3 separate regions of the Homo sapiens genome follow, and all the other regions are linked to region 2. The links come from fine-mapping of genetic effects on gene expression. A gene starts in region 2. Each other region holds a variant in brackets. All regions are shown on one strand. Distances are from middle to middle.

What was found. PIP is the estimated chance that this variant, and not a neighbour inherited with it, causes the effect.
Region 1: its variant is fine-mapped to the expression of TNNT3 in whole blood (INTERVAL, PIP above 0.99).
Region 3: its variant is fine-mapped to the expression of TNNT3 in CD4 T cells (BLUEPRINT, PIP 0.92).

Annotation. Positions count from the first base shown.
Region 1 is chr11:1,888,545-1,896,714 of GRCh38, forward strand. It overlaps LSP1 (lymphocyte specific protein 1), which reads left to right. Exons shown (of 11, transcript NM_002339.3): 11 at 3,229-3,719. It overlaps PRR33 (proline rich 33), which reads right to left and starts at 3,351. Exons shown (of 1, transcript NM_001395380.1): 1 at 1-3,351. The coding sequence starts at 2,040. The coding sequence ends at 601. The variant CTGGA/C (reference allele first, on the strand shown) is at 4,905.
Region 2 is chr11:1,916,331-1,924,500 of GRCh38, forward strand. It overlaps TNNT3 (troponin T3, fast skeletal type), which reads left to right and starts at 3,373. Exons shown (of 16, transcript NM_006757.4): 1 at 3,373-3,432; 2 at 6,527-6,561; 3 at 6,718-6,731; 4 at 7,225-7,242. The coding sequence starts at 6,545. It also overlaps a transcript of PRR33 not described here. RefSeq lists a silencer at 91-140 and an enhancer at 691-740.
Region 3 is chr11:1,863,747-1,871,916 of GRCh38, forward strand. All of the region lies in intron 1 of LSP1 (lymphocyte specific protein 1), which reads left to right. Among named protein-coding and RNA genes, the nearest start is that of MIR4298, 8.3 kb to the left of the region's middle. RefSeq lists enhancers at 6,855-7,393, 7,394-7,931. The variant C/T (reference allele first, on the strand shown) is at 3,638.

The sequences.
Region 1 (8,170 bases), 28 kb before region 2:
CCTCCCTGCCTGCCCCTGAGCACTTGTATTGGTGCCAAGTCCCACGCTGGCTGAGGGCTCCCCCCTGCACCCTAGTCCCAGGATCTGGCTCTGCCATCAGGAAGCACAGGCAGCAAAACTGCTGACTGCTCCTGACGCCGATGGCCAAGCCAGCCTGACCGCACCCATGCCTCAGCAAGCAGAGATCTGGCCCCAAACCTTTGACAGCAAAAGGTGACAGCAAAAGGGAGGATCAGTGAGAGGCCCAGGCCCCTGAGGAGCCTGGGCTAGGTCAGTAGATGCAGTCCTCTGCCATCTTACCTAAAGTTTTCATCCCAAGGCCCCCATCCTACATCCCGACGCAGACCCCTTCTCTGTTCCCCTCACACCACTGCAGCCCAGGGGCTCCAGCTCGTCCTCTCTGCCCCGTCCACCTGACCACCCTCCTAACCATGCAGACTTCCCTCAGCACCCCATGTGCCCTTCCCAGGCTGCCCTGCACCCCATGCCCCTTGGGCCCTGGTGCATCTTCATGCAGCAACTATGGGCCCCCAGCTAGAGCCTCAGCCCCTTCTTCTGTCCATCCCATGGTCCTGGGCTCTGGGGGCCATTCTGGCCACTTCACTGGAGCCTCCAGCCAGTCGCTGTGCGGTTGAAGTTCTTGGGCTGGGGGCTCAGCTCCAGGATGGAGCGGACTGTGGGAGGGGGCCGGGTGGCCTCCTGCAGCTTCCGGGCGTTGAAGCGAGGCCGGTACAGGAAGGGCAGGCGGGTGAGGCTGGCTGGGGTGTGCTCCCCACCGCTGGGCCCTGCCAGGCGCCCTTGGGCCTCCGCCACTGACATGCGGTACAGCACGGCATCCCACATCCTGGAGGTCCGGGAGGCGGGGGCCCGGGGTGCGGTGAGGGCGGGCACCTCCTGCTCTGTGGGGGCAGGCACCTCCTGCTCTGTGGGGGTGGGCACCTCTGGCTCCAGGCTCTGCCGCGGCTCTGGGCACGGAGGCTCTGGGGCCTCCTCCAGCAGCTGCTTCTTGAGCCACGTCCAGCCACTGAGCCGGGGCTTGGGTGCAACTTTGGGGACAGGGCATGGGTGAGGGCCTGATGGTGGGGTAGGGGATGAGGCCCAGGCAGGGCTGGACACTCGCTCGGCCTCAGCGGCGGGGCCAGCCATCGGGGGCTCCTCCAGGTGCTCTCTGCCAGGGCCCATGGGGACCAGGCTGTGCGGTGAGGACTCCAGCGAGCGGCAGGTCGGGGCTATGGGCACCACAACCCTGGCACTAGCCTCTCTGGGCACTGAGGCCTGGAAGCCGGGTGGCGGCCGTGGTACAGGGGGCTCCTCAGGCAAGGGACTGGCAGCCTGGACTGTGGTGGGCAGTGGGCGGATGTGAGCCACTGGGACCAGGGGCTGGGCCCTGGGGGGACTTGGGGTGGCATCTCCATCCTGGCTGTTGGATCCCACTTCTGGGGCTGTCCTGGGAGGCTCAGGGGTCCCATTGTGTGGGGATGGTGCCAGCTGGATGTGCACCTGGGTGACGTGGGTGCCCCCACCCCCAGAGACAGGGACGAAGCCACTGGGGGGCCGGGTAGGTTCTGGGGCCGAGGCTACAACCTGGGGCCCCATGGCCCTGAATTGAGCAGCTAGAATCCTGCGCTGGGTGAGGCCGATGGAGAACGTGGACTTCTGCAGGGGTGATGCCACGTGGTGGATGATGGGGGTGTGCGGGGAGCGGGGTAGGGCAGCCACCATGCGGGGAGCCTCGGCGGGGCGTGGGGCTTCAGGAAGGCGTGGGGCTTCGGCGGGGTGCGGGCCCTCAGCAGCGTGCGGGGCTGTGACCTCCTGGTCATGGCTGGCCTCACTCACGGGGGACAGGGAGGTGCGGAAGGCCCTGGGTGGAGCGAGGTGTGTGCCTCCCATCATCTTCTTCCGGGCTGCCTTCCTCAGGAGCTTCTGCAAACGCAAGTTGTCCTTCCCTGGCTTGGGCAGCAGGGGCGGTGGGGGTCCAGGGGTTCCCTGGAGGCTTGGGCCGCACACCTCGGGTGCCATCGACGCAGCCGATATGAGCATGACTGTGTCCTAGGGTGGGAGGGACAGTGGTCAGGCCAGCCCTCCTCCCTCCTGAGGTGGGAGGCCTGTGTCTCCTGTGGTCCAAGGAGGACCTGGGGCCAGGGGTGTGGAGGCCTGAGTATTCTGCTTCCTGAGCACCCAGAACCTGCCAGGGACATGCTGAGCTCGACTGTGCCTTGGGGACTTTGGGGTGGCCCCACCATCACCCTAGTGTAGAAATGAGGCCACAGAGGCCGAGTCCCTCCAGGGATGGGGCTAGAACCTGCCTCCAGGGCTCTGTCCTCCATGCCACCCCAGCACAAAGCAGGCCCCAAGTACACAGCCTGGGTCAGGCCGCAACACCGTGTGGGCTGGGGTGGGAGACGGAGACGCGGGTGAGCCCCAAGTGACAGGCATGCCCCTGGCCAGCTGCTGGCCAAGCCCAGGGCTGGAAGAGCGGCTGCCCCCAGACACGTGAGGGGCGCCCTGTTGTCGCCGGCTCAACCACAGGCGCGTCCGCTGCGAGCCAGCGGTGAGGGGTGGCGGCCAAGAGGCTTGGGAAAGCCGAGGCTGCATCATCAGAGGTAGATTGGCCGGAAGGTGGGAGCAGTTTTCGCTGAGCTATGCTAAATGGGATATTCCCGCAGACCTCCTGTCTGGGGTGGCCCGGCCAAGCCGCCCACCCTGGTTTCTGGGCACCACGTGTTTGCAAGGACATTGACAAATGGCATCTGTCCGAGCCAGAGGCTCTCTGGTTTGGGGAAGGAGGGAGTCCTGGGGGCTGCCGCTGGTGGGGGCTGGCTCTGCCAAGGCAAGAACAGAGCTGCTGGAGGGGTGGGGGCGGAAGGAGCCTGCTTAGGACTGCTCTCAGCTACCGGCCTCCTCTGGATGACGGGACTGCAGGAACCACGAGAACCCCAGTTCTAGCTCCCAGGGTGGGCAGGCTGCTTGGCAGGCAGGCCGCCTTCCCTCCACCAGGAGTCAGGTCTCCAGCCAGAGGTCCTGACCCAGGGCACAAGTGCTCGCACTGGGAAGCAGGCCTCTGAGGCAGGACGTCTTCTCCTGTGGTGGAGTGGGGGTGTGGGCAGGGCAGGGAGGCCAGCAGAGAGAGGCTCGGGGAGCAGGCTCTGTGGGCTTGCAGGAGGCAGGTCTGTGGCCCCTCCCTGGACCCTAGCCTAATGCCCCCTGCACCCCATGCCTATGTTCCAGCTTCCTGGGTCTGCAGGTCCAGCCGGCTGGCACCCTCCATGTACCCAGGGGAGATTCCAGCCAGACACCCGCCCCCCGGCCCTGGCTAAGAAGTTGCTTCCTGTTGCCAGCATGACCTACCCTCGCCTCTTTGATGCCATCCGCTGCCACCTCCTTTTGCTCCTGGACCCTTTAGCCTCTCTGCCCTTCCACTCTCTGACCACCGCCCCCGCCCTCCCCACCCAGCTCCGCTTCTTGTTACTTGGGGGAGGAAAGAAACTCCTGATCATTGGCCAAAGGGACTTACCCCTGGAGAGGCCAAGTGCCTTCTAGGAAGTTAGGAGGTTGAGGCACAGCCTGTGCAGAGAGGGTGGGTCACCCCCCCAGATCCAAGGAGAAACTGCAGGTCAAGGGCTGATAACGGCCATGCAGGATGCTTGATGCTGCGTCCCCCGCTGCTTGCCGCCCCCCACCCCGCCATTTTGTATAATAAAGCTCCCTGTGTATTCTCATGTGCTGGCTGTCTTGTACTCACTAAGGGGGCAGGGCTGGCCAGGATGGAAATGTTGGGCCAGTGGCCAGCCCATTCCCACACTGCACAGCATGCTGTGGCCTCTGGGTTCAGGCAGTCTGACCTGTCTCATGGCCTTTGCAGTATAAGACGCCAGGACATAAGCTCTCTGGTGGCCTAAGTCAGAGCACACACAATGGGTGGGGTCCGGGCTTCCTTTTCCAGAATGTCTGTGATATCCCTACCCCAACCAGGACTAGCCCAATATAAACTTCTGTGCCTTGACTTCGCACCCACTGAGGGCAAGATCCACCTCGGGGCCTCCCCCAACACCACACAGGAGGTGCTCAGTGAAGGTTTGGAAAACAGACAAATGGGTGGATGGGTGGGTGGATGGATGGATGGGTAGGTGGGTGGACGAATGGATAGATGAATAGATTAATGGATGGATGAGTGGATGGATAGGTGGGTGAATGGATGGGTAGGTGGGCGAGTGGATGAATGGCTGGGTGGGCAAGTGGGTGGATGGATGGATGGGTAGGTGGGTGGACGAATGGATAGATGATCAGATGAATGGATGGATGAGTGGACAGATAGGTGGGTGAATGGATGGGTAGGTGGGTGAGTGGATGAATGGCTGGATGAGCGAGTGGAGGGATGGGTGAGTGGATGAATAGGGGATGGATGAATGGATAGAGGGATATGTGGATGAGTGAATGAGTAAGTGGGTGGGTGGGTGGATGGATGGATTGATGGATGGATGAGTGGACGGATAAGCAGGTGAATGGATGGGTAGGTGGGTGAGTGGATGAATGGTTGGGTGGGTGAGTGGAGGGATGGGTGAGTGGATGAATAGGGGATGGATGAATGGATAGACGGACATATGGATGAGTGAATGAGTAAGTGGGTGGGTGGGTGGATGGATGGATTGATAGATGGATGGATGAGTGGACGGATAAGCAGGTGAATGGATGGGTAGGTGGGTGAGTGGATGAATGGTTGGGTGGGTGAGTGGAGGGATGGGTGAGTGGATGAATAGGGGATGGATGAATGGATAGAGGGATGTATGGATGAGTGAATGGGTAAGCAGGTGGGTGGATGGATGGACTAATGGATGGATGAGTGGGTGAATAGGTGGGTGAATGGATGGGTGGGTGGGAGGATGGCTGGCTGGCTGGCTGGCTGG[CTGGA/C]TGGATGGATGGATGGGTTAGTGAATGGATAGGTGGATGGATGAAAGGAGGGATGCATGAGTGGATAGGTAGATGAGTGGATGGATGGATGAAGGGATGGCTGGATGAATGGACAGAGGGAGAGAGGGGGGATGGAGGGAGGGATGAGTGAGTGAATGGGTAGGTGGGTGGGTGGATGGATGGATGGAAGGAGCGATAAATGAAGGGATGGGTAGGTGGTTGGATGGATGGATAGATAGATAATGGAGGGATTGATGAATGAAGGGATGGATGCATGGATGGGTAGATGGATGGATGGATGAAGGGATGGATGAGAGTGGATGGACAGGTGGATGGATGGATAGGTGGATGGATGAATGGAGGGATGGATGTGTGGATGGGTAGATGAAAGGATGGATGAAAGGACGGATAGATAGATAGGTGAGTGAGTGAATGGATAGGTGGATGGATGAATGGAGAGATGGATGAGTGGATGGGTAGATGGGTGGGTGGATGGATGGGTGAAGGGATAGATGAATGGATGGACAGAGAGCGGGAAGGATGGATGGAGGAAGGGATGAATGAGTGGATGGGTAGGTGGGTGGGTGGATGGCTGGAGTGTGGGAGTGTGTGTGTGTGTGTGTGTGATAGGGCCTCACTCTGTTTCCCGGGCTGGGAGTGTGTGTGTGTTTGTGTGTATGTGTGTGTGTGACAAGTTCTCTGTTTCCCAGGCTGGAATGTGTGTGTGTGTGTGTCAGAGCCTCACTCTGTTTCCCAGGCTGGGAGTGTGGGAGTGTGTGTGTGTGTGTGTGTGTGTGTGTGTCAGAGCCTCACTCTGTTTCCCAGGCTGGGAGTGCAGTGGCACAATGAGAGCTCCTTGCAGCCTCAACCTCCTGGGCTCAACGGATCCTCCTGCTTCAGCCTCCCAAGTAGCTGGGACCGCAGGTGCCCACCACCACACCTGGCTAAGTTTTTGATTTTTTTTGTAGAGACGAGGTCTTGCTATGTTGCCCAGGCTGGCTTCAAACTCTTGGGCTCAAGCGACCCCCCCTGCCTCCACCTCCCAGAGTGCTGGGATTACAGGCATGAGCCCTGCACCCAAGGGTTTGTGCTTTTTTACAGTGTTACATAAATGGCATCCTGCAGCACGCACGCACTCCTTGTCTGACTTCTGTCACGTAGCATAACTATTCTGAGATCCATGCTTGCTGCTGTGTCTGTTGTAAACACTCATTTTTATTGCCACAGCATGGGTACACCCCAACCCGCTCATCTGTTCGTCTCTTGGTGGACATCAGGGTGGTTTCCAGTTTTGAATGATGGAAAGTAATGTGGCCATTTACATTCACACACAGGTTTTCAGAAGGACATACATTTCCTTTACTCTTGGGGAGAGGCCTAGAAATAAAACGACTAGATGCCGTGGGAGGTGTGTGTGAAACTTGTTCAGAAACGGCCTAGCTCTCATTTCTTGTTGCAGTTGGAATGGTTCATCTCGCTGACTTTGGCCCTTCCTAGACGTGGAGGGTGCGGTCTGTGATTTTGGCTTGCGTGTCTCCCGGCACCAGGGGTGCCGTGCAGCTTTGCACGTGCTACTTCACCACTGATACATCTTGCTGGGGGAAGCATCTGTTCAGATCTTTTGCCCGTTGCTGTAAAATTGGGTTATTTGTTTTCCTATTGTTGAGTTTGAGAGTTCTTTCTTTCTTTTTTTTTTTGAGATGGAGTTTTGCTCTTGTTGCCCAGGCTGGAGTGCAGTGGCGCCATCTTGGCCCACTGCAACCTCCGTCTCCTGGGTTCAAGCGATTCTCCTGCCTCAGCCTCCCAGGTAGCTGGAACTACAGGCATTTGCCACCACGCCGGGCTAATTTTTGTATTTTTAGTAGAGGTGGGGTTTCACCATGTTGTTCAGGCTGGTCTCGAATTCCTGACCTCAAGTGATCCGCCTGCCTTAGCCTCCCAAAGTGCTGGGATTACAGGCGTGAGCCACCGTGAGAGTTCTTTGTATATATTCTGAATCAATCCTTGATGAAATAGATTTGCAAAGATTTTTCTCCTGGTTGGTGGCCTTGTCCTCTCACCGTTAACCATCTGAAGAGCAAATTTTAAACATTTTTGATGAATTTCAGTTTGTCAATTTGTTCTTTTAGGAATTGTGCTTTTGGTATCATGTCTGAGAAATCTTTGCCTTATCCAGAGCCATAAAGATTTTCTCCTGTGTTTTTATGGCTCCAGCTTTACATTTAGACCCACGATCCTTTTTGAGTTAATGTTTGTGTATAGTGTGAGGTACGAATGCAAATTATTCTTCTTTTTCTTTTTGCATATGGAGATCCAGTTGTTCCAGAATATGAAATTGCTGCAGCATGGTTTCTTGAAGAAGCTACAGTTGTGCACCGAGTCGCCTTTGCACCTTTGTCAAAAGTCTGAACTGTGCATGGTGGTGGGTGCCTGCGGTCCCAGCTACTTGGGCGGCTGAGGTGGGAGGATCCCTAGAGCCTGGGAATTTGAGGCTGCAGCGAGCAGAGATTGCACCACTGCACTCCAGCCTGGGCAACAGAGTGAGACCCTGCCTGAAAAAAAGTCATCAGTCTGTGTGTGTAAGCTGATTTCTGGACCGTTTTCTTTTGGATCTACTTGAATATTTTTACACCAGTATCACTCAAGTTTTGCTTACACTGGTCTTATATGAATTCTTAGAATGTTAGCTCTTCAATTGTGTTCTTTTTCCGGATTGTTTTAGCTCTTCTCCTCCTCTGCTTTTCCATATGTGTTTTAGAATGGACCTGTGAATTTCTATAAATGCAGGGAGAGTTGACATCTTAACAGTATTGAACTTACTAATCCACGAACCTTGGATGTCCCTATTTATTCAGGTCTTCTTCCACTTCTTCCAAGGATTTTTTACTCTTTCAATTTGGAGGTCTTTCACATCTTTTGTCAGATTGACCTCTAAGTATTGTCTATTTTTATACAGTTAGGAAGTGGTATTTTTAATGTCAATATCTGATAGTTGATTACCATTTTATAGAAACACAATGGACTTTGTATATCAGTCTTGTTATTCCACAACCTTGTTAATCTCACTGAGTAGTTCTTGCAGGTTTTTCTTTTGTTGTTGATTCCATCGGGTTAGATGGTCACGTTATCTGTAGATAAGATTGTTTTCTTTTTCCTTTCTCGTCTGTATGGCTTTTATTTCTTTTGGGGGCCTAATTGCACGAGCAGGAACCTCCAGGTCAATGTTGGACGGAGGTGATGAGGGCGGACATCCCAGCCTCCT
Region 2 (8,170 bases):
ATGTCAAACCCTGCTTGCCTCATGAATACACACAGTTCAGAAAAGCAAAACCTCGACAGAGCCACCACCCACACAAGGGAGGTGACGTGCCCCCATCCTTTCTCAGATGCCCCAGCCACTGAGAGAGGATCCAGGCCACCCTCCCCAGCTGGGGAACCACCCAGTGACAGCACTCCCCTTGTTTCCCACCTGATCCGCTTGGGACGGTGACCAAGGGCAGCCGAGAGGCAGGCCCAAAGGCCACAGTTGGGCACTCAGCACTGGGGTGCAGAGTGGACAGCACCAGGGGCAGGGGGTAGTTGGGGTCAGCAGTGCTGAGGAGGCAGCCACTGCCCACCCCGCCCCCGACCAGCCCTGGCCCCTTGTCAGATCATCTGCACCCCTCGGCTCAGCCTCGAGAACAAGGACCCAGGGCCTGTCCCTCTGAGCTCTACCCAGCCACAGCCCTGCTGTGTTTCTGATGCAGCCTCCCGTCCACGGCCACAGCAACCCCATGCCCCTGCTCCTGGAAACCTGGAGGTCAGGCCATGCCCAATGCGGAGGTCAGGAGGCTCAAAAGGCCTGCAGCCTAAGAGGCCCCTGGCCAGGGATGGCAGATGAAGCCCCTAGCCTCTGTCCTGCCTGCCAGAGCAGCCACCAGACACCCTGTGACCCTTGCTACAAGCCCCTAGGCCAGCCACAGAGAAGACACCCATCATATCTGCAGAACGAGTCAATGAAACTGCAAAATCAGAAGCACTAGGCATGTGGGGAGGCAGCTACCTAGGGCTGGAGCAGCTCAGTTCCCAAGTGCTGTGTCAGCTGCTCCTGTCCTGGGCCTGGCAGTGATTGAGCCCACAGCTGGGCCGAGCGGCCTCAGGCTGGATCCAGCCTGGGGGCTCAGGTCAGCTCAGGGCATGAGGAGAGGCTCAGGACCCTCTTGGTCTCCACCACCCCCAACCATGCGCACTGGGTGCTGGGACCTAGATTGAGGGGCCCCGGCCACCATCTGGGGGCCACCCAGGCAGGGAGCTGCAGCCAAGACACTCAGGAGGCCATCCTCCCTCCCACAGCCTGCTCCCCACTCCCTGGGCTTGGCTCAGCATTTGCCAATTTCAGAACCCCCCCATCCCCCAACAACTGCCCTAGAGCCAAGGCCCCGTGGTCCGTCCTCAGACTCCTCCTGGGTGGAAATGCGTCCCCAACCCAGGCTGGGCCTCCCTTGTGCCCTGCCCCCACCCAGGTCTACAGTCCCCCAGGAGGCCCCTGCCCTGCCTCCTCTCCTTGGACCATCCCGGTCCGGCCAGATGGCAGCAGGGCATGGGTTACCTGGTGCAGGCCCTCGAGGCCGCTGGTGCCTGCTCTGTGCAGTCCCTGCTACGCCTCAGGCCCAGCGCCCGAGGGGGAGGTCGCCGATACCCAAAATAAAACCTGCCCTATCCCTCTGACCTCAGCTGGCTGGGCGGAGAGCGCCTGCCAAAGCTCCAGGAGCTGGGCGGGCAGCACCTTCCCCTGCTGGCCACACGGGGCCAGTGCAGGGTTATGGCACACCCACCTTCAGGTGCGCCCCTCAGGACCCCTGGCCTGGGTGAGGGCTTGGGTGGGCACAGGCTTCCTAGGCCTGCAGACTGAACCACGTGTAACCAGAATGGTGGGCTCAGGGCTCCGTTAGAGAAGCCGGCAGAGCGAGCCTGGAAAAGGAGGTTGGCCCCACCATGGGAGAGGATGGGGTGGGCCCGCTGACCCCCAGGGACCCGCTCACGTGCCTCTGAGGGAGCAGTTCTGCAGATGTCCCCAGTGGGCAGGAAGCTGGTCACAGATATCCAGGGGCCAGGGCTGTTTGTGGCCCCCAAAGCCTTGCCCATCGAGGACATGGACAGGGAGGGGAAGGCGTGGAATGCAGACGAAGCCACAGACCCAGAGCAGGAGGACGGCGACGTTCCCAGCAACCCCAGCTCCAAGAGCCTTCCCAGTGCCGGGCACTCAGCGGGAGGCAGGCAGGGGACCGGCCCTGTCCTTTGAAATGGCAGCCTGGGGCCAGCCCGCCTTGTCGTGTGACCCCAGGCACACCTTGCCTGTCCCTGGGCTCTGCGGCCTCGCTCTTCCATGGAGGGGTGGAATGAGGTGCCAACCACAGCCTTCCGGAAGGCCCCCGACCCGGCCCCAGGGCACTGTGAGCCCCTGCCGGGTTATCCTGTTGTCCCTGACTCTAAGCCTGGGGAGGACAGGGACCTCATCTGTGCCTCTCGGGACTCACCCCTGTCCTGGGCGCTGGCCAAGAAGGAACCAATCTGTGCCTGAACCGAAGAGTTCCGCAGACACCACCGCCCACGCTCAGCCTGTGGGGTCTGAGGGGAGTGAGGGGGTGGGTCAGGGTGCCAGACTGCTCTCCCCCACCTGGTGCCTCAGTTTCCCTGATCCAAGAGGCAGGGTTATCCAATCTGGTGGCCTCACTGGCCAGCATACAGGCCATCAGAGGCCAGGAAGGATGTCTGCTAGTCGGACGGTGCCACCTGGAGTCCTGAGGAAAGAAAACCAGTCTCCACACGCCACAATGAGCCTGTGGGAGATGCTGGCACAGATGGTAACGGCCACTGCGAGTGCCCAGGGTGGGGCCCCAGGGTTAGAAAGGGCCTAGAGGGAGGACCCAGACCCTTACCCAGCAAACTCCATGTGTAGCCCCCTGCAATGGCAGCAGCCCCGGGGGGAGGTATGGCAGACTCGGACTGCAGCCAGCCTGGCCATGTCCCTCGCCCGCTTATTGTGTAGGCCCCAACGGTGTCTAGCCAGGAAAGCAGAGCTGGCCTCTAAGAGGGTCTCAGATAGGGTGGGGGCCTGGCCTCAGTTCCATGGGGGGTCTCCGAGGCCTCAGGCTGCTTCCTCCCCGGGGGAGACAGCGAAGGGCCTGGGGCATTGGGCCGGGCGGCGGGAGGGGACCCCGGCTGTGCGGACCCTTTTCCTGGACAAATGTTTACTCCCACAGAACATCTCAGAGAGAAGGGGCGGGGGGGTGGGAAACCCGGCAGCCTGGCTCTGGGGACCCCCACACTAGTTTGGCCCAAAGAGAGCCTCGGCTTGGTGCCCCGGGGCCACCCAACACCTTCCTCCTCCCTCCTCAGCCCATCCAGAATGTACCCGCTGCTGGGAGTAAAAATAGCAGCTGACACCTCCTGGAGGCGGAGGGAGGACCTTGCCTCCTTCTCCAAGCACGTCCTCTGCATCCTGGCCTCCTTCAGCCTCCTCCTCTGGCCATTCCTATACTTGGTAAGGGGCCTGCACGGGCATAGCCCCCCCCAGCAAGACTCCGCACACACCCCGGCCACCCAGTCACTGGCCAATGGGCTCCTAGGAAGATCAAATGTCACTATAACACGAGGGTGTGAGCCGGGCGCCAGTGCCTGCAGCCGGTGCTGTCCACAGGGAGCTCCAGCCCTTCTCACACTCGACCCGCAGGTGGGTATAGGCAGGAGCGGCCACCCAGGACTGGGGCCGACGGGGCCTCCTGCGTGCGGGTGGACAGCCCCTCGTTCCAGGGACACTCTGGGGTCCTGGGGCGCTGAGGTCCCAGGTCCGTGTGGTGCCGAGCATCTCGAAGCATCATGGCTCGGAGCCCCCAGGTGGCTGCTCCAGCGTCCGGAGAGTCTGGGATGCGGACATGGTGGTGTGATGGTCTCAGCACCGGGAGGATGCAGAAGAAGGCAGAGTGTGGGAGGCCAGGAGGGGGCAAGTCGGGGCTCAGGGAAGCTCAGTGCTAGGGAGTGGCCTGAGGGCAGGAGGCAGAGAGGTGCGGGCTGTGAGCGGCAGGGAAGAGGCTGTGCAGGGGTGCTGCCAGGGCTTAGGTTGCCAGCTTGTGGTCGCCATGCAGACATTTGCCCAGGCCCGTCCTGGCCTTGCCATGCAGCTCTCGCACCTGGGCCTCCAACACCGCCATTTTGTAGAGATGAAAACGAGGACAGGAGGGCAGGGGCTCCTGTATGGCCAGCCCGAGTGTGTTGGGGTGGGGGCGTCTAAAGCCCACGCAGCCTTGGGGGCCAGCGTCTGGAGGTGCAGGACAGAAGTGGACAGGGGCTGGACTGGGGCAGGACGGGGCAAGAGTGAGGGGCTGGGCTTCATCGCGTCCCCCTGGCTGGAGGCTGGAGAAGCTGGCGCTCGTAAGAGCCCCCACCCACCCTCCCTGCCCTGGACACGGTCCCCCTGACTTGTGCCGTCTGATCAGGCCTTGGCTGCCCCTCCTGAAGTCCACGGAGGGACATGGGGCAAAGCAAAGGTTGGCTGGGTGGAGAACAGGTCTGGGGGCATGGTCAGGGCCACAGCAAGCAAGGGGCAGCGGCTTTTGCCTCCCCACCCTGCCCTGGCCCCGTCACCTCCCAAGGAGGGAAAGGTGATGCATACGTGCCCGAAGAAACTGACCGCATAGGTTATTTTCACGCAGCCCCTCCAAGGCAGGCACTAACTGGACACCTGCTTTGCGTCTCAGCTGTTGAAATGCCATCCCCTGCCCCCAGCACACCCCTGCCCCCAGCACACCCCTGCCACCAGCCCCTCCCCGCAACAGAGGCAATGACACAGGCCATACTGGGGGGAACAGAACAGCCTTGTGTTGCTTCCAGGCGCTCAGCAGAAAACCAGGTGCCTCAGTTTCCCCACTTGGAGAGTGGGCCTTTCCAGCGCACGTCGGGGGGCCTGGAGGTCACCCTGCCTGAGGGTGTTGGGGCACCCATGTGACTCTGGCCTGGGGGGACAGGAGGGAAATATGAGGAGCTGGGGAGGGCCTGGGTGCCCGAGGGTGAGGGGGCAGCTGTGGGCCAAGGAGGGCTGGGCTGTCACACCCGCCTCACCCACGTCTTGGGTTTCTGGGCAGAAACGTCTTGCCTATTTCTGGACACCTCAGCTGCCACTGGCTCCTTATAAATAACCCACCCCAGGCGAGGGCCACGCTGCCCCCATCTTGTGGCAGCCGACAGGTGTCTGCCCCGCCAGCGTCGGGCTGGGCACAGCAGGGCGGGGCCAGGCTCCGCTCCCTCCCTTCACTGACCCTCCTCCTCCTTACAGAGGATGGCCCTAGAGGAGTCTGTGGCGTTTGGGGCCTGAACCAGCTGGGAGGACAGCACGAGGGGCTGGTGGGCAGCCTGGGACTGGGTCACACCGGGGGCCTGGACAACACTGGCTCGTGGGGCTGAGGACTGAGGAGAGCCTGGCCCAGCCGTGGCAGTTACAAGAGGCTTAACCTGAGGGGCAGCAGAGTCTCAGGAAGAGATTCTGGGATAGGAAAAAGCTACCCCCGTTGCCTGGAAGACAGCTATCTGCTGGGTAATTTTGCATGGAGCTTAAGTTGCTCTGGGAAAATTAACATTCTTGACAGAGGGTTTGGAAAACGGTTCCCACCTCAGCAGTGCAACGTAGATGCATTTTTAGCTGATGAACGTGTGTTTTCCTTATACAACACTCCCAGGGGGGACCGTAGCTATTGTCTTCGAGTAATCTGTACTGTGTTGTAATGAACTTTGTTTTCTAAAACCCTGGCCAACATGCCGGTGCAGCTGCTCAGAGCCTCCCCAGGCCTGGCCGCCCAGTGTGCACGGTGGCCAGCTCACAGAGAGACGGTCCCCAGCATGCTGGCCTGGCGCCACCACCGCACATGGACAGGGCAGCCAGTCCTGGGCATGGAGCTTCCCCTAGACAGGGACAGATCCAGAGCATCCCCGGGACCAGGGAAAGCGGCCACAGGGAGGGAAATGGGGGGGCTGTTCTGTGGGCTCCTGCAGTCCAAGTATGCCTTGTACAGAGCCCGGCCCGGGGGGGTGCACGGGAAGCGGCCCAGACCCAACCCAACGTGCTCTGGGGCTCAGCCTCAATGTTTTCAGGGTACAGGGGTAACAAGAAGGAACAGCTTCCCTGCTCTGTGATCTTGGAGGAGGGGTCCTCAGAGGGGTGTGGTGGGACACACTCTGGGCACCCCATAGGAAAACAGGCACAGAAGGGAGCTTTGGGCTCAAATAGGGAAGAGGGGTTCTCATGGGGAATGGTAGGGTGAGCAGATTACTCATCTTGGGGAGCCAGTCTCGGTCATCCAGGGGCTCCCAGGGAGACCCCACCTACACCCACTGGGCAGAGAACACCCAGAGACAGGTTTCAGCTCCATCAGCGGGACCTTTCCAGTGTCTAGAGCGGGCTGGACGGCACACGGCCTGCATTCTGGATGACCCTCCTCAGGGGACGCCACGGAGAGGATGTCTGCCCTGGGTGGGGGTGGACGCCACGACCTTCCAACATCCCTTCCAGCTCCAAGATTCCAAGCTCCAGTCTGGAGCCAGGGCAGGAAGAGGGGACAGAGTCTGGGGCGCCAAGAGCTGGGAGGGGCCAGGAGCCCTGGAGAAAGGGGAGGCCCAAGGAGGTGGACTCACCCAAGGCCAGAGCTGGCCCCCAAACCCTGCCCGCGGTCCCCCACAGCGCTGCTCCAAGACCCCATCCCCCATCCTACACCCAGGCAGCTCGTAACTCTCTTTCCATCCTCTCTCTCTCTCTCTCTCTGAATCTCTCTCTGCAGAAACCACCCACCTTCACCATGTCTGACGAGGAAGTGTGAGTACCCAGCTGGTGGCTGCCCCCTGCCTGGCTCGGGACCCTGGCCCCTTGGCTTCTGTGGGGCTGGAGCATGCGCTATCTTGCACAAGTCCAAGCAAAGCCCAGCCTCACTACCTCTCTCTCTTTCTTTCTCTCTCTCTCCCTGCCCCACAGTGAACAGGTGGAGGGTAAGTGTAACAGCCATTTTCTTTCTACTTCCTGCTCTAGAAGGAAGGCTCACATGTGGGCAGGGGGCTGGACTGTGCATACCCTGTGTCCCCTTGACAGCCCTACATCAGCTGCATCCCATGGGTGGCTTCTGAGTGACCCCCGGAAAACAGCTGTCCAAGTGGGGGGCCTCGTCTTTTCCCCGAAGTGTGGCCACATGGTCCTGAGGGGCCTGCAGGTCAGGCTCTGGGTCCTGTCTCTCTGCTTCTCTCATGCCCACTGTGGGACGTGGGCATCCAGGACCCCCGAGCCCCCCAAAAGCCACCATCATCACCAGAGCCTCTGCCTTCCCCAGCGCCTCCTCAGGGCCCGAGGACCCCTGATTCCACGCTCTTGGGCAGGGGCAGTCGCTGGCCTGTCCAGGGCCGGGACACACTGGCCTCTCATCCTCCTCCTCCCTTCACGGGCTGCCCCTTCTAACGTGGTTCCCCTCTTTGTTCTGTCCCAATGCAGAGCAGTACGAAGAAGAAGGTAATTCTGGCAACCACCGGAAGCCCCCCCAGCCCCTCCTTGGAACTTAACCCCCCTCTCCCGTGTGGCGCTCACAGAACCCCCTCCCCAGGCTGCTCCAGGCCGCCTTGAGCTTGTCAATCAACCTTCCATCTTCCTCATCATTAGTCACTAACAATCACCATTCATCATTAATTAATGATAAATGAGGCCACCACTTAATTAATGATGGATGAGTCATTAAATCATCACTAACCCCTGTCTCTTTAATCGATTAATATGCATTCACGATCCTTCATTAATCCTTCATCCTCCGTGTGCCATGGTGTGTGGAGTTCACTGGGGCTGGTCATGAAGGCCTCAAAACACCGAGTGCCCTGCGTGCCCAGTGCTGCTGTCTCTCTGCCTCTCTCTCTATCTCTACCCTCCCGGCATCTCAGAGTCTCTCCATCTCTCTCCAGTTCCTTTCCGTGTCTCTCTTGGCAACTTTGTCTCTCTGTGTGCCTGTGTATCTCTCAGCTTCTCTCTGTCTCTGTATCTTTCAGCCTCTTGGTCTCTGTCTCTCCCTGCCTCTCTCTCTCAGTCTCTGTCTTTCTTGGCCTCTCTGTCCCCATTTCTCCACCTCCATCTCCATCTCTGTCTCTCTGTGTCTCCATCCCTCCATGCCACCCCCCAACCCTGTGCTGTAACCCTGGGTGGAGCCTGGAGCCCCCTCCCTGTGCTGGCCAGGTGTGGTCTGTGGGCGTCTCCATCGTGCCCGGGCAGGCGTGGGCGGGTGTGGGCGCACCTGGGAACCGTGTGGGGTGGCGGTTCTCAGGCCGACGGCGCTGCCCTGGAATCCCTGGCACCCACTCAACTGGGGAGCGCGTTCACGCAACCTTAGCAGGCAGGGCTGTCCTGTGAGGAGTCCTGAGTGCTATGTTTTGAAAATATTTTGAAAACACTTGGC
Region 3 (8,170 bases), 53 kb before region 2:
GCCAGAGGACGCGGGCAAGGGGGGCCTGGCTGGCGAGGGCACCAGGCCCACTTTGTGCCCACTGGCCACCTCTTGGGACCATGCTGTGCCAATACCAAACCGAAGATGCTGCGTTGGTGGCGTCTCTGCCTCTTGGGTCAACTCTGCAGTCTGGCTGGGGGGTTGGGCCCACCAGGAAAGGCAGCAGCCTCCCCATTTGGGGAACAGAGAGGGTTCTTGGGGTGCCAAGCCTTCTCTGGAGGTGACAACAAGAGCAGAGGCCGGGAATGAACAAAGGGAAAGTGGAGAACCAGGAGCGGGGGAGAGGGGAGGAGGGGAGAGGAAGGGAGGGGAGGGGAAGGGAGGGAGGAGGGAAGGAGGGAGGGAGACAGAGATAGGGACAGAGACACCAGAGGGAAAGGAGAGAGGAGAGAGGGGCTGAGTGCGAGACGGGGAAGGAGGGGACGGGACAAAGAGGAACCAGCGAAGGGTCCAGGCCTGCGATGATGGTGAGGGAGGTGGCAGGTTGACGAGGGGCTGGACAAGAACGGCCGACGAAGGAGAAGAACAGAGGAGGGCCCGGGCAGGGCCTGGCAGAGGGCATGAGGCACTCCGAGGTGGGAGGCGGCGATGGGCAGAATAGGCCCCTGTGCCTGGGGCAGGGGCACCACAGAGGGCTAGGGGAGACCGAGAAGCGGGCAGCGGCTACCAAGGTGGCCTGAGGGCAGAGGCGGAGGGAGGAAGGGAAAGAGGAAGGGAGGGAGGGAGGGAAGGAGGCAGCCACGCTGCCCATCAGCGCGCCACAGAGGTCTGGCTGAGCCCCACGCTGCTGGGCTGGGAGAGTTTTCGCTCTGACATTTTTACTCTTCTCGGAAGGAGGAGGAGGTGGAGGTGGAAGAGATGGAGGCGGGAGGAGAAGGGGGCTGGGGGAAACAAAAGAGAAGCAGCTGCTGAGAGTCCTGAAGTAGGAGAGGGGAAAGGGAGACCCACAGTCAGGGAGACCCACAGGGATGGGGACACAGGGACCAGGCTGCCTGCAGGGAGCCGGCCTGCAGACCCTCGTGCCAGGAGCCGAAGGGAGGGACCAGGCTGCCCACAGACCCCTGTGCCAGGTGCCAGAGGGAGGGACCAGGCTGCCCAAGGGAGCCGGCCCACAGACTCCTGTGCCAGGGGCCAGAGGGGCCAAGACAGGCAGGCAGAGGGTCACAGGGACAAGGAGAACACCAGACAGAGAGAAGGGACAGGGGAGGGGTGACAGCCAGCGAGAGACCGAGGGCCAGGGCAGAGCGCCAAGGAAGTGCAGGAGTGAGAGGGGCCAGGAGAGGCAGGAAAGCCAAGGAGAGCTGGGCACAGGGGGGCAGGGGTGCGGGAGGAGGGCAGCAGAGAGGAGGGCCAGCAGGACAGGAGCCTTTGAGATGCTGCTCTATCCCCGGGGCTGGGGTCAGGCCAGGTCGCCGCCTGAGCAGAGGCTGCAGCCTGGGCAGTCCCGGGCTTCTGAGGAGGAACTCTAGCAGACAGGGCCTGGATACCTCTTGAGGTAGGTCCCTCCTGCCCTGGCTGGGCATGGAGGGCAGGGCAGGGTGCCCATGCTGGGCTGCCACATGCACCGGGCCACTGGGCCTCCCCCCAGCTTCGGTAGGCTCTGCTGCCCCAAGCGTGGGCAGCGAGAGGGTGCCAGGCTGGTTGCGTGTACATGTGTGAGTGCGGAGGCTGCTTGAGGCCTCTCTTCCTCCTGGCTCCTGGCAGCTGCCCATGCATTCTCCTTCCCCATCCCACCTGCACTGCCGGCTGCGCTGTCGCCTGCTCACACCGTCCCACCCGCACCGCCGGCTGCACTGTCACCCGCTCACACCGTCCCACCTGCACCGCCGGCTGCACTGTCACCCATTCACACCATCCCACCTGCACCACCGACTGCACTGTCACCCGCTCACGCCGTCCCACCTGCACCGCCGGCTGCACTGTCACCTGCTCACACCTCTCCCCGAGCCCCAGGGATTCTGCTTGACTCTGAGCCCCCAAAATGAAGGGCCCATCCTCTGGGTGGCTTCTGGGGCCTCCCGTGGGGTCCTTCGGATCCTGGGCACCCTTCAGTCACCCTCACTTCACAGATCATGAAACTGAACTTTGGGCTGAGCTTACCGGCCCTGGCTGCAGCCACCAACCCTGAGTGGGAGGCTCCTCAGGGCCAGGGAAGGTGCCCGGGCCTTGTCCACCTGCAGGTGTTGGGCCAGTGTGGTGCCCTCTCCCAGCCTGTTTCTTCCTCTGTAAAGTAGTGGTGTGGCCCTTCATGGGGTCAGGTGGGAGAGCAGAGTTTGGAGGGCCCAAGGCTCCTCAAGACCCAGCCTGGGCAGTCTCAGAGATATCCCTCTGCACCGTCAGCCACTCTGAGCCGCCTGTAGTGCCCTTTCTCCTCCTCAACCCTTCCAGGCTTTTAAGCCAAACTGAAACACCACCTCCTGCTTGAAGGCTGCCTTGCTTCTTCCTAACCTGGAGGGCTGTCCTGCTCTGACTTCCTTTGATGGCATGGAGCATGCTGGCCGGACCTCGAGCTACTGGAAGGCAGGGCTGGCATCGGTCGGCTTGCCACTGCCCACCCAGGCCAGGCACTCAGTGCTGAGACTCTGAGAGGCCAGAGAGCCAGGGATGCCCATGGGGGTGAGCTAAGTGGGGTCTGAGGAGTTGAGGGCAGCCCGGCTCACCCCTCCTCCCCAGCTCCCACTTGTTGGGTCCGTGCAGATGCAGAGAGATGGCTCCGATCTGGTCCCCACCTGGCAGGGTCTCCGGCTGTCACCTGAGTTCAGGACCAGCACCAGGATCTGCAGTGGGCCCCTGGCTGGGCACACCTCATCCCAGCCTCCCCCTACCCCTGGCCCCCCATAAGCCTCCTCCTCCTGGGCTTCCAGGCTCTGCTGGTCAGACCTCCCTCCCTGCCCAACGGGAATGTGTTTTCCCAGGGGACGCTGCTGTCCACCAGGAGCTCTGTGGCCTGGGATTTGAGGAGTGCCTGGGGTCAATCCCCCAGGCTCACCAGTGCTACTTAACAAATGGGCCCAAGAGAAGGAAGTGCAGCCCCCGGAGGAGGGGCAGAGCCCCTGCCTGGCTGTGCGGTGGCTCACCCCCTTGTCACCAGGGGCTCGGCCATGAGCATCCGTCCAGCGGGCCCAGCACCAACTGCAGCCCCAGGTGAGCAAGCCGCACTCAGGAGGCACTGAAACCGTGTGGGCCCAGGCTCGGGGCCAGTCCCTGTGGACCTGGGGAGGAGACACTGAAGCCGCGTGGGCCCAGGCTCAGGGCCAGTCCCTGTGGACCTGGGGAGGAGGCACTGAAGCCGCGTGGGCTCAGGCTCGGGGCCAGTCCCTGTGGACCTGGGGAGGAGACAGTGAGGAGGGGACCTCACTTGCGGTGGTCAGCCAGTGGGTTGGTGGCATAAGGACCCGTCCCTTTGAACTCCCTTGGAACTTGTCCTGATGGGGGCTGGGCAGAGGGCAGCAAGAGTCCCTTGTCCAGCTAAGGGGAGCCACCAAGGTGAGCTACATGAAGCAAGGCTGACACGTGTGCACTAATACACACCCCCTCCAGGACACAGACCCAGAGGCCGCTGCACCCCACCCACCCACCACACCCACACACACACATGCACACACACACGACCACC[C/T]GGGACAGTACTGCGCTCACCACCACTGCCATGATCTCTTCTCTGCAGCCTCCAACAGCTCGGACTTCCCCAGTCCCAGCCCTGCAGGCCAGGCAGACTGCCCCCTACCCACTCCCTGTTGGATAAAGGAGTGAGCCAGGCTCAGAGAAGCTGTGGGTGAAGAGACTTCAAGGCCACTCAGCCGGGCATGATGAGCCCGGGTCCCTGGGTCCCTCCTCCACCCGCATCACCCCACCCCTTTCCCGGGGACCCCTTGGGTGTCCTGCCATGTCAGGTGCAGGGCTGGGAGAGGCATTGCAGGCAAAGTGCTGTGTCCTCAGTGATGAACCCTGAAGGGCCATGCTAGGTGCCCGCAGCTGCCAGGGAATAAATTCAATGCAGTTTACATCCATTAAAAATGGTGCTCTGGGCCAGTGGGAAAACGTGTCCCCCCTGCCCCGTCGCCCCCCACCCCTGCCCCAGCGATTCTCCTTGTCTACACCCAGTGCAAGCCCAGGGGCTCTGCATGTAGTCCCATAACACCATTTTCTCCAGGTCTGGCTGTACCCAGCCCCTGCCAGAATGCGGCTTCTGGCTGGCAGGGTCAGGCCCTGGGCTGACCTACCCCCAATGCCTCCCTGCCAAGTCTGCCCTTCCAGGCACCTGGGAGTCTGCCCTGTGCCTCCTGCCTGCCCCTGGGCAACTCGGGGCTCTCCCAGGGCCAGCTCGGGCAAGGCAAGTGTTAGGGATGGTCAGGGGACCTCAAGAGGACTTCAGCCCACTCAACTCCAGACGTCACCCGGACTCAGCCAGCGGCCTGGCCCTGCTACCTGTGGGGTCCTGGCTTTGTGAGAGGGCACCAGGCCGGCTGAGAGTGCCTTGTAGCCTGGCCCGGAGTGAAGAGGGGGGCTGGGGATCAGCCTGGCAGACGTTCTTATCAAGCATTGAGGTCCCCGGAGCCCCGTGCCCACCCTTAGCCATGGCTCTTTGGGCGGTGTGAGCCCCTCCATTCCCTCCATCTCGGGCACACATCTGCCCACACATATACAGATGTGGCAGCCACACCGTGCTTGGCTCTCCGCAGGGCTCTAAGGCCCCTCAGGCAGGGACCCACCCTGAGCAGCCTGGTCCAGGGACCTCTGGGGCTCCTGATGTGGCCAGTGGGGCAGGAATGGGCTGGCAGCCTGCTGGGCTGGCCCTGAGGGGGCTGGGGGAAGCCAGGCCTCCAACCACAGTGTCCAAAAGGGTGTGGCTGCCTTGGGCCCATCCAGGCCTGAGATCCTGAGGGTGGGGTAGCCCCCGCCCTGGCAGGGCTGGAAGTCGGTCTTCGGACAGAGCCCGTCCTGCCCAGAAGCCCAGGCGAGCCAGCAGCAGGGGTGCAGGGACCGAGTGGCCCAGCCCCCTGGGCAGGGTGTCAGGGCCAGAGCCCAGAGGACGGCGGTTCAGGCTTCAGTCCCAGCCGGCGAACCAGAGCTGGGCAGAGCGGCCAGCAAGCGGCAGCCAGGGTGCCCTGGGCACTCGACCCCCAGATGCCCCTGCTGGAACCGTAAAGGGGAGGCACCCTGAGGCCAGAGGGAGCATGGCCCCGGGGACTGAGCATCCGGCTCAGAGCGGCTTGGCAGAGGTCGGTGGACTGGGGTTAACCACAGAGGTCTCTGGAGGGCAGACAGGAGCCACTGCAAGTGGGAGCTTGTGGGAGAGAAGCCCTTGGGTGACCCCTGGATGGGGCGGGGACCATTAGGGAGAAGGGTGAGGGGCTTGGCCCCTGCCCCAGGCTCCAAGTGGGCTGAGACCCGGGAGGCTTGAGGGTCGGCTGCTACCCATGACGGGTTGGGGAGGTATTGGTGCGAGCTGAGGTGGTGCTTGCGGAGGTGAGATTGAGGGCCGGGCCTGGCCAGGGATGCTGGGAGGGGGGCAACCCTGTGCCTGGGGCTGTGAGGGTCTCTTGACGAGAACAAACCCTACCTGGGGAGAAGTGACAGAGAAAAGAAAGAAAGAAAGCGAAGGCACGAGAAAGAAATGAGAGAAAGGGAGGGAAAAATGCTGAGAGGGAGGGAGAGCAGGGGCTGCCTTGAAGGAGGAGGGAGGGGGAGCAGAAGCGGGTGCAGGGTGGTGGCAGGATGGGAAGGGCAGAGGGAGGGGCTGAGGTGCGAATGGAAGCTGTGTGAGGGTCCCGGGCACTGCCCCTTGCCGCCGACCCCAGGTGTGGGAGGAGGGGTCTCTCCCACGTGGGCCGCACCTAGCAGGTGCCGGGGCAGAAGGCTCAGAGCCGCTGTCTCACACAGCTTCTTGGTGCTCCAAAGACGGGCGGTAGGAGGAAGATCAAAGAAGCGAGAAATGGATGCTGGAGGAACGCAGTGAGGCCAGGCGAGGGCTGGCGAGCTTGCCAAGGAGAGGGCGGGCGAGGAAAATGGGGCGCCCCACAGAGGAGGGGGCGTGGGGGGGGCTGGTTTTCCCCGAGACTGAGAAATGAATTTCTGCACCCGGACTGGGACCCCCTGGGTCAGGACCCTCCACTCACATTCAGGAGCAGCACCTCTTCTGGCCTCTGTCCCTGCCTGGTCTTCCCCACACCCGGTTCTTGGGGGTTGAGGGGTTGGAGCCCCAGCCACGTCATCAGCTCCCTGGGACCCCTGCGTGAGACGTGAGAGGTGCACCTCCGAGCCTCCGTTTGTGCATCTGTAATGGGGATGATAGGACTGCGCCCCTGGCGACCATTGTGAGGACGGAGGCGCTGGCTGCACTGGTGCTCACTGTGCCTCTTTAAACGGGGATGTCTGGACCTCTGGTGCAGAGGACCAAGGCCGGTCCACTTGACCTCAGCCATGAGGACATCCCAAGGCCATGTGAGTCTCCCACGGCCCACTGAAGCTGGTCCTTCATACCCCATTTTGCAAACAGGAAAGCTGAGGCTCAGGGAGGCACCAAAGCTTACTCCCATCCTGGGGCTTGGCAGGGGGTGCCCGCAGCACCCGGGGACATACACCGGGGAGTCTCCTGGGAAAGAAGTGCCGGCCCAGGGGCAGACTCTTTTCTGCTCTGCCATGTCTTCCCTGCACCCCCAGGGATGATGAGTCTGGGAGGGGCTGGTCAGCCATGAAAGCTTCGGGGAGGGGCCGGTGGCCAGGCCGGGCACCCCAGAGCTCCACAGGCAGACATGGTGTGGGGGTGTCAGGAAGAGGGCCTGGCTGCTGGGTGCTACGGTAGGAAGATCCCGGTGCTGTGGGAGTGGAGCAGGTGGTTGAATGCCAGGCTGGCTTGGTCCTTCTCTCTGGGTGCCGGCTGTGGCTCCCGCCCAGGTGGGCACCACGTCTGAATAATGTATGAAGCCTCTGGTTGCGTGGAGGATGGGAGCGCTTCGGGCAGCATCTGTGGGCAGAGACTTCAGGGATGTGAGGTACATCTGGGCATGGCTAGCTGGGAAGGAAAGAGGATGGCAGAGCCTCGAGCCGTTGCCAGGGACTGGTTGCGTGTCCCAGAACGTGCCAAAAGCCTGCCTCGTGAGCACGGCAAGAGCTCTGCCAGGGCAGTCCCAGCTGGCCCAGGCGCCGCAGCGCTCCCGAGGGCCGTCGAGCAAAGGCGGGAGGCGCAGCCGGGCTGTCGGTGGACCTGTAGGTATCAGGGCTCCTTGGTCCCCTCCTGCGGGAAGCAGGCACCGAGTGGGGCTGCATGTAGACGCATGCGAGGGTGAGAGCTGCGGCGGAGGACGCTGATCGCGGAGTGCAGGCGAGGGCCCCAGAAAGGTCCCGCAGGTCGCCTCGCTCGTGGCACGGGCTCGGCAGCGTTGTGGTTAGTGACACGGAGGAAGACAGAAAGCCATATGCACAGCACGCAGAACAGGAGGAGGGGGGAAGAAAGAGCAGGCACGGGGCAGGCAGAGCCGCAGCCACGCCGCCGGGATGCAGCAGGCAGGGCCACCCACGAGCAGGGCGGGGCCCTAACCTCCGACCCAGGCTGGTCGCCGCAGATGGGGGCAGAGATGTGAAACAGCTGCAGAGCGGGACAAGGGTGCTGCCGGCACAGGGCTGACCACAGAGCACATCAAAAGAGGTAGGGCACCCAGCGCAAGGGAGGTGATGGGCTGGTCAGCAGGACATCAAGCCGGTTCTGGACCCTGCTCTGAGGACGGTCCCTGACCCAGCCTCTGAGGACCAATGGGAAGCCAGGGGTAGAGGGGTTGGGGGAAACCAGGCTCCATTTTCCAGTCTCAGCAGGGGGCCAAGGCTTGCGGCTCTGCGGAGGCCACACCATGAGGTTTCCAGGGTCATAGATGCCCTTTGGTCAGCGCTGTCTGCCGCTGCACGGGCACCCCTCCTGTTGGGTGTCTGGGTAGACTTGGGGGTCTGTCCGGCTGGCGTGGGCACCTTTGGGAGGGGGGTGTGTGTGGCGGGCAGGCCTGGGCTGTAGTCACCCCAGCCCGTGCTGGTAGAGTTGGGGTCTGTCCGGCTGGCGTGGGCACTTTTGGGACGGGGTGTGTGTGGCAGGCAGGCCTGGGCTGTAGTCACCCTGGCGCACGCTGGTAGAGTTGGGGTCTGTCTGGCTGGCGTGGGCACT